2 separate regions of the Homo sapiens genome follow, and region 2 is linked to region 1. The links come from fine-mapping of genetic effects on gene expression. A gene starts in region 1. The other region holds a variant in brackets. All regions are shown on one strand. Distances are from middle to middle.

Region 1 (4,527 bases):
TTTTTTTATTTTTTTAGTAGAGTTGGGGTTTCACCATGTTGGCTAGGCTGGTCTAGAACTCTTTACTTCAAGTAATCCACCCGCCTCGGCCTTCCAAAGTGCTGGGATTACAGGCGTGAGCCAACGACCCCAGCCGGCCCGGCTAATTTTTGTAATTTTAGTAGTGTCAGGGTTTCACCATATTGGTTAGGCTGGTCTCGAACTCCTGGCCTCAAGTAATCCCCTGCCTCGGCTTCCCAAAGTGCTGGAATTACAGGCGTGAGCCACCGCGCCCGGCTGATAATGAAATGTCTAAGCACTTAAGAACGTGCATTCAAAAGACTGGAGTTTTTTGAAAAACAGGGTAACCTGCAGTAAAAGAAATTCTTACACACTTTCACTTTTTTTCTTTAAATACTGTCTAGTAGACTGTGGCATCTCTAGGTGGCTAAAATAATTTGTCGATAACATCAAACATCTGGTTAGTGTTCAAATTTCTCAAATTGTCTTAAAAATTTTGTTTTAACCGTTGATTTGTTTGAATCAAGATCCAAATAACGGAGCAAAATTTTTATCATCAAGCCCACTGGCTGGTTACACTTTACCTCTTTTCAAAATAGATGTTTGTCACTGTGACACATTTCCATAAGCAAGAGAATTGAGAGATTAATTCAAGGTCTCTTTATGTGCTTTACAAATATCAGATAAGCTCTGGTAATTAAGTTACGGAAAATTCGCATAAGTAATATCTTGATGTTAGTCTTGGACATTAGGACTCAAAAGGCAGCAATGACAAACCCATTTATGTTGATTTCACAGCCTTTGGGGGTCTCCTTGTCTTTATTTTGATTGTTGGAAATAGAGACCCACGCTTTGGCCACTATATAACAAAGTACTAAAAATGTATAATAATGCAAATTCACTAATATGTTTATTAAAATATAAACAAGTTTATTACAAATCTGTAGCTTTATTCACAACTAACATCCTTATTTTTGTCCTATATGCCCACGTTTGTCCTCAAGTACAACGAAGGACTGAGAGAGCATATAATCCCCTCTAGGTGTAAATGAACGTATTTATTTCGCTTCAACTCATGTATGAAAGGATTAAAAAATTATTAGTCCCCACAACTTAATTCTCCCAAAGAGAAGGTGCCAAGAATGAGGCACCTTTAGCCATGCATAATCTCCACCCATCTCATCAAATAAACGGAACAGTGATGAACATAACTTGCTAAGTAAGCTCAGCCGTGTAACAAGACCCTAGATTCCCCTCCCTTCTTCATCCTACCAGAACATTATCCTTAAGGTTTTCCTAATCAGCAGTCTGCGTCTAACTAACCCTAACTATCCAGAGTCACCTAACATATACTTATTTCCTTGTTTCAGATTCCCATTACGCCTATCTTAATGGGACAACTGGGTCCGAAATTATGCATGTGTTTTTTTGTTTTGTTTTTGCGGTGTACTTATTATCCGCACTTTATCATTAAATTCCTGAAAAGCTAGAACAAAACAAATCCGTGTCATTCACTATGTGCATCCTCTCTGCTTGGGGACGCCAAGGGTTTCAAGCTGCTGCCTCCCTGCCCTGGTCTCTGCTTGCCGTATCCAGCACTGGGTAAGCGCCCAGGTTCTGCTCCGGGACTAAAACTCATGATCTTCTGGCTCAGGTTCTGTGAACTGAGTCATTCTGGCACTGAGAATATTCCGTGACTCAGCAGGCCCGAAAAGGAGGATGTCAGAATCCACATAATTTCGAGTCTTTTAAAGGCAAGCCGAGGAACACAAACAACACAGTGGAAGAATTTCGCAGTGGGTCGTGCGTACCCAAGGGAAAAATTCATTCCATTCCCAGCCTTTTCACTTCCTTCCTTGCCCCGGTAAAACGACTGGTTACACTTTAAATCAGCGGCAGGAAATCGCTTCACGAAACTCATCTGGCTGCTGCGACCAGGCCCTTCTGATTCTCCAGGGACCGTGTCGGCCCCATGAACGCCCCGGGACCTCTGTTCGGGAGGGGCTGGAGCGGGGCCCCGGGCAGCAGCGGGCGCTCCCGGTTCGGACCCACACCTGGCCGGGCGGGGACCCTCTTGCCGCAGCCCAAATTGGCGCGAGGCCCCAGGGACGACCCCGAGCGACCTCCTGACCCGGCATCGCCCCTCTAAGGCGCCCTCCCCCGACTCCTCCCGCAATCCGGAGTCTCCCAGGCCGCGGAGCCCAAGGACCCCAGCGACTCCCGCGCGGGGAGCGGGTCTGCGAGGCCGCCCTTCCCTCCCGGCATGCACCACCCAGCCGCCCTCCCCTCCCCTCCTCTCCTCTCCCCTCCCCTCCTCTCCCCTCCTCTCCCCTCCCCTCCCCCAACCCCCTCCCCCGGCTCCCCGCCCACCTCGCGCGCCCCTCCCCCCGGGTCGCGCGCCGCGGGCCCGAGCGCGAGACGCCGCTGCTCCCGCCCCCGCCGCCTCCTGGAGTCGCCGGGGCGGACGCGCAGTCCATGGGGCGCGGTGGGCCGGGGAGTTGCCCCAGGGGCCGCGGGAGTTGCTGAGAGGAGACAGGGTTGGGCTTTCTCCTCGCCCAGACCCCACCCCACCCTGCCGACCCCACCCCCTGCTCCTTCCTCCCCGGGGGCGCGCACTCGGGCACGCGCTCGGAAGTCGGGGGTCGGCGCGGAGTGCAGGCTGCTCCCGGGGTAGGTGAGGGAAGCGCGGAGGCGGCGCGCGGGGGCAGTGGTCGGCGAGCAGCGCGGTCCTCGCTAGGGGCGCCCACCCGTCAGTCTCTCCGGCGCGAGCCGCCGCCACCGCCCGCGCCGGAGTCAGGCCCCTGGGCCCCCAGGCTCAAGCAGCGAAGCGGCCTCCGGGGGACGCCGCTAGGCGAGAGGAACGCGCCGGTGCCCTTGCCTTCGCCGTGACCCAGCGTGCGGGCGGCGGGATGAGAGGGAGCCATCGGGCCGCGCCGGCCCTGCGGCCCCGGGGGCGGCTCTGGCCCGTGCTGGCCGTGCTGGCGGCGGCCGCCGCGGCGGGCTGTGCCCAGGCAGCCATGGACGAGTGCACGGACGAGGGCGGGCGGCCGCAGCGCTGCATGCCCGAGTTCGTCAACGCCGCCTTCAACGTGACTGTGGTGGCCACCAACACGTGTGGGACTCCGCCCGAGGAATACTGTGTGCAGACCGGGGTGACCGGGGTCACCAAGTCCTGTCACCTGTGCGACGCCGGGCAGCCCCACCTGCAGCACGGGGCAGCCTTCCTGACCGACTACAACAACCAGGCCGACACCACCTGGTGGCAAAGCCAGACCATGCTGGCCGGGGTGCAGTACCCCAGCTCCATCAACCTCACGCTGCACCTGGGTAAGCGGTGACAGCCCCGTCCCCTGCTACTGCTCGCCAGCAGCCCAGCTCCCGGACCGGCTCCGTCCCAGTGGCCGGCCTCACGGGCGCAGACGGCCGCGTGTTTGCTCTCTGTTCCCCGGCATGGGCCACACAGAAACTCCTTTCTCCAACTTCTTAAATAGATACTGCTTTTAACATCCCGTGAGGGCCAGGATGTTCCGCACGAGTCTCTCTGCTTTCCTGTTCTTTCTGACTTAACGGGATTCTGGCTCTCTGATTATTCTGCATTTCGGCTGTTAGGATTGTGATTTCCCCCTTTTTTTTCTGAAGCGTTAATCAGAAACTCCCATCCCCACTTTTCTCTTTGCTAGCAAGGTCATCACAGCGCATTCTTGGATCGGAAACAAGAAGGTCCGCCTTAAACACTTTCGCCTTTAAAATGTTTAGATGTCCTTCCAGGGCTGAGGGTGATTGCTCTGTTGAGTTAAGGGGGAATTTGAGGGGAGCAAATGCCTTCGCTGCCTATATTGCCTATGTGTAATTAAAACATAAATTCACTTTTGAAGTTATTGTTCTTTATAGCTGCTCAGCCTTAATTAAGAACCACAAAGCGATTTGACTGCTAATCCTGGTGCAGAATGAACAAAAGGAAGTGCACTCACTGTAATTGCTGGGCATAGCCTTGTCCCTGGGTAAAAAGGCTCTCCTTTACTGTCTTCCCTTTTGCTTTCATTCAAAGCAACTGTAGAAACACGTGTAAGTGATGTTTCAGAAATCAGGAAAGGGATGTGTAGAAAACTTCATGGCAGGGCAGTGGATTGAGGATGGACATATGTATCTGGAAGCACCAAAAATAATGTTCGGTCTAGCTAAGGTTTTCTTCATCATTGAGATACGTAAATAGGCAGAAAGTTTCATTATTGTGTTTAACAGAGGAATCTATGTGTGAGAAACACGTTTGACTTAACACTTCACTCCCCATTGCCTTGGAAGGCTTGATTATTACCAGTAGCTGGTACTAATGAACTTCCAGAGAGAACAGACTGCCTCAAGCCATTCTTCTGTCAAGGGAGGGTAATTTTGTAAGGCTAATATCACTTAGGGGTGTTGGAAAGGAACATGTTGTAGGCAAATGGTTCTTTTGATCATGATTTTGCTGCTCTCCGGTACACTAAACTTTATGTAAGTATCAGGATTCCAGAGAAAGAATTGGACTTA
Region 2 (4,000 bases), 110 kb after region 1:
AAATATTAAAATAGTTTTAAAAATCATTAAAGGCATGCGTCTTCATAAGCTTTTTTTTTTTTTTTTTTTTTTTGAGCCACAATCACTCTGTTGCCCAGGCTGGAGTGCAGTGGCGCGATCTTGGCTCACTGCAACCTCCACCTCCTGGGTTCAAGTGATTCTCCTGCCTCAGCCTCCCAAGTACCTGGGACTACAGGCACATGCCCACCATGCCCGGGGTAATTTTTTTGTATTTTGAGTAGAGATGGCGGTTCACCGTGTTAGCCAGGATGGTCTCGATCTCCTGACCTCGTGATTTGCCCACCTCAGCCTCCCAAAGTGCTGGGATTACAGGCTTGAGCCACTGCGCCCAGCCAAAAAATTTTTACATTATCAAATAATTGAGTAACCTTCCAAGCAGGACCACCATATATAGTTAGGCAAGAGTTTGTAGAATGTCACCTCTGCACATACATTTGGTAGCCAAGTTCCAAGTTGGTTTTTTCCAAACCTGTATTCATCTTCATTGGTCTTACCTTTGACTTCTCATCTTTTTTTTTTTTTCCCACATTCCTTAGAAAATTTAGACCCCAACACCGAGCATGATGCTGAAATATGAATTGGTCAATTTACTTAATGGTTTTTATATATTAATAAAACCTCATGATACATGAGAGTTTTAATAATAACAGACTTATATTTATCTTTTGATTTGTTAGGACCTGAGTATGAGATTTAAGTTGAATGAGCATATTAATAAAGAATAATTTGAAGAACTATTCAAAAACAGAGATCAGTTTGAAAGAAATTACACTGATATGCTGGCACATGGGGGTGGCAAAAGAGTCTATTTAGTTTAAAATACAAAATGAGTTTAATTTGTCATACTTCAACTTATGTTTTAAACCTAGTTTTTTCTGGGTTTTGAAAAATGTTCGGCTTTTAGGGCTGGCAGCATTTTTAACAACATTGTAGATTTATGACTAAATTGCATGTGCTGGTATTAAAGTCAGTCATTCTCACCTTCATTAAACATTCCTTGGGTGTCTTCTCTTTGCCAACCACTGCATAAGACCAGCGATATAGTGGTGAGTAAGAAAGAGTTCGTAGTCAAGTGGACAGATGGACGCACGGTTGGAGGTGTGATGAGTGCACAGTGAAGGACCTACTGGGTGTGGTAAAGGCTGTCCAGCTATGGCAGGGGCTTTGTGGAAACCTGGCAGAAAGTTGCGATGTTTAGAAGAGTAGAGATACATAGGGCCTCAGATTTCATGTGAGATGATATGATCCTCTTCAGATAATTTACAGACTTTCTTCTGCAAACCATTTTAGATGTTGACCAGAATTTGATGGATCGCCTACAGAGAGTGAATAACACTCTGTCCAGCCAAATTAGCCGTTTACAGAATATCCGGAATACCATTGAAGAGACTGGAAACTTGGCTGAACAAGCGCGTGCCCATGTAGAGAACACAGAGCGGTTGATTGAAATCGCATCCAGAGAACTTGAGAAAGCAAAAGTCGCTGCTGCCAATGTGGTAAGTGATTGCAAACGTCTGAGGTGGGGATGGGGGAGGCCCCTGGGGTTTGTAGCAAGTCTGTTACTGGCAGTGGAGTGCTTCTTCAACTAAATTGACTCCATGCATCTTTTTATTTGTCCCTAAATATGGGGCAGAAAAGCCACATTGCTCATAGTTGGCATGAAACAGTTATTAAAAACTGGATAAAAACCAAGGGACATCTGGGTTATTTCTCTAGCTTTGTTCCTTCTATGGAACTAGGCAGTTTAATCTTCCTTTATCCTTTACTGAAAATAGAATCTGCAATCAAGGGTGCTGATATTAAATAAAGATCTCTGAAAATAAGAAGAGGTATTCTTGGGGCCAGGCGCGGTGGCTCACGCCTGTAATCCCAGCACTTTGGGAGGCCGAGGCGGGTGGATCACCTGAGGTCGAGAGTTCGAGACCAGCTTGACCAACATGGAGAAACCCCGTCTCTACTAAAAATACAAAATTAGCCGGGTATGGTGGTGCATGCCTGTAATCCCGGCTACTTGGGAGGCTAAGGCAGGAGAACCACTTGAACCCAGGAAGCAGAGGTTGCGGTGAACTGAAATTGTGCCATTGCCCTTCTGCCTGGGCAACAAGAGTGAAACTATCTCAAAAAAAAAAAAAAAAAAGGTAGAGGCATTCTTTTTGCCCTCTAACAAAAATTTAGTTTTGACTCTTGCTTTATTAAATGTAAATAATTCAGTCCTTTGAGAATAAGTGCTTTATTTCCTGTGCAGTCAGTCACTCAGCCAGAATCTACAGGGGACCCAAACAACATGACTCTTTTGGCAGAAGAGGCTCGAAAGCTTGCTGAACGGTAACTTCTAGATCCCTGTTTAATGGTTAAGTTGTGGCTTCTGTTATGG[G/T]GTGTGTGTGTGTGTGTGTGTGTGTGTGTGTGTATTGTCTTATCCCATAACCCATAAACACTTTCTACATAACCCACTTTTGCACACTTTGCTCTCTTTTCTAAGATATTATCAGCTGTGTATACTCTTTTCTTCCTTTTACTTTGACATTAGAATATTCACTTTGAATATTAGAATACAATGGTTTGAAGACAAATCATATTTATATTTCTCAAAACCATAATATTTTTAGATTTTTAACTTATTTAAGACTGTAGTAACTGAATGAAACTAGCAGATTGTTGTTAATAAAGATTAGGCATGGGATTTGTTTTTAACTAGGTAAATGATTTCTTGCTGGCATACACAATTTTATATGTACATTACTCTCAAATAATTAAATTTAAAAGTAGTTTTTCTGAAGAATTATAAACATTTTCTCTTATAAATGTATACCAATAATTTTTTTGGAAAATATTCTCATCTCAGTTTTAGAATGCTATTCATAAATTCAGCCCCACTGAAATGATCACAAAATTCCAAATGAATGACGTTTTCTAATATTTGTAGAATTGTTGCCCATGTTAGTATATGTACATATAATAAAGTAGGCCGGGAGCAGTGGCTCATGCCTGTAATCCCAGCACTTTGGGAGGCCAAGGCGGGTGGATCACCTAAGGTCAGGAGTTTGAGACCAGCCTGGCCAACATGGCGAAACCCATCTCTACTAAAGATGCATTAGCTGGGCATGGTGTGTATGCGTGTAATACCAGCTACTCAGGAGACTGAGGTAGGAGAATTGCTTGAACCGGGAGGCGGAGGTTGCAATAAGCCAAGATCACGCCACTGCACACCAGCCTGGGTGACAGAGCGAGACTCCATTTCAAATAATAATAATAATAATAATAATAATAAAGTAAGCATTACCTGAATTTTACTTATGTCCCTATCAGATGGTTGTTTCATGGCTTATTTTTTGTTTTATCTGTATAGTCATAAACAGGAAGCTGATGACATTGTTCGAGTGGCAAAGACAGCCAATGATACGTCAACTGAGGCATACAACCTGCTTCTGAGGACACTGGCAGGAGAAAATCAAACAGCATTTGAGATTGAAGAGCTTAATAGGAAGTGAGTATAATTTGAAAGTGGTTTACACCCCTTCAGGTGTTCTGGTAAGTAACACTAGTTCAATGAAAAATTAAATGCTGGTGCATTCAGGGCATACATTCATGCAGTAAGATTTCCTTTGTTAATCATGCTTTTGAAATGGAAAAGTAAGTAGAGAAGGGCATGTGAAGCCACAGAGATTTGGTTTGATTCAATTACTGTAACTACAGAGAATAGTAACAAGATGAGCCATGATACTTAAAATTGTGCACAAATAAAGAAGAAAAAATATAATAGAGTAAGTAGAGGAAACATAATTGAACTACAAATCTTTAAAGGGTGTCTGAAATAAGAAAGTATATGGTAAGCCATACATTATAGAAAATTTTTTCTTTTTTTTGTTGTTTTTGTGAGATGAAGTCTCACTCTTGTCCCCCAGGCTAAAGTGCAATGGCGCGATCTCGGCTCACTGCATCCTCTGCCTCCCGGGTTCAAGCGATTCTCCTGCCTCGGCCT

What was found. PIP is the estimated chance that this variant, and not a neighbour inherited with it, causes the effect.
Region 2: its variant is the best candidate, but not a certain one, in a credible set for the expression of LAMC1 in lung (TOPMed, PIP 0.81).

What each region holds. Positions count from the first base shown.
Region 1 is chr1:183,020,808-183,025,334 of GRCh38, forward strand. It overlaps LAMC1 (laminin subunit gamma 1), which reads left to right and starts at 2,613. Exons shown (of 28, transcript NM_002293.4): 1 at 2,613-3,327. The coding sequence starts at 2,910. RefSeq lists enhancers at 73-572, 1,310-1,865, 1,866-2,420, 2,976-3,529 and silencers at 1,932-2,321, 2,352-2,741, 2,792-2,861, 2,882-3,021.
Region 2 is chr1:183,129,033-183,133,032 of GRCh38, forward strand. LAMC1 (laminin subunit gamma 1) reads left to right here. Exons shown (of 28, transcript NM_002293.4): 19 at 1,312-1,517; 20 at 2,267-2,346; 21 at 3,368-3,505. Among named protein-coding and RNA genes, the nearest start is that of LAMC1-AS1, 10 kb to the right of the region's middle. The variant G/T (reference allele first, on the strand shown) is at 2,396.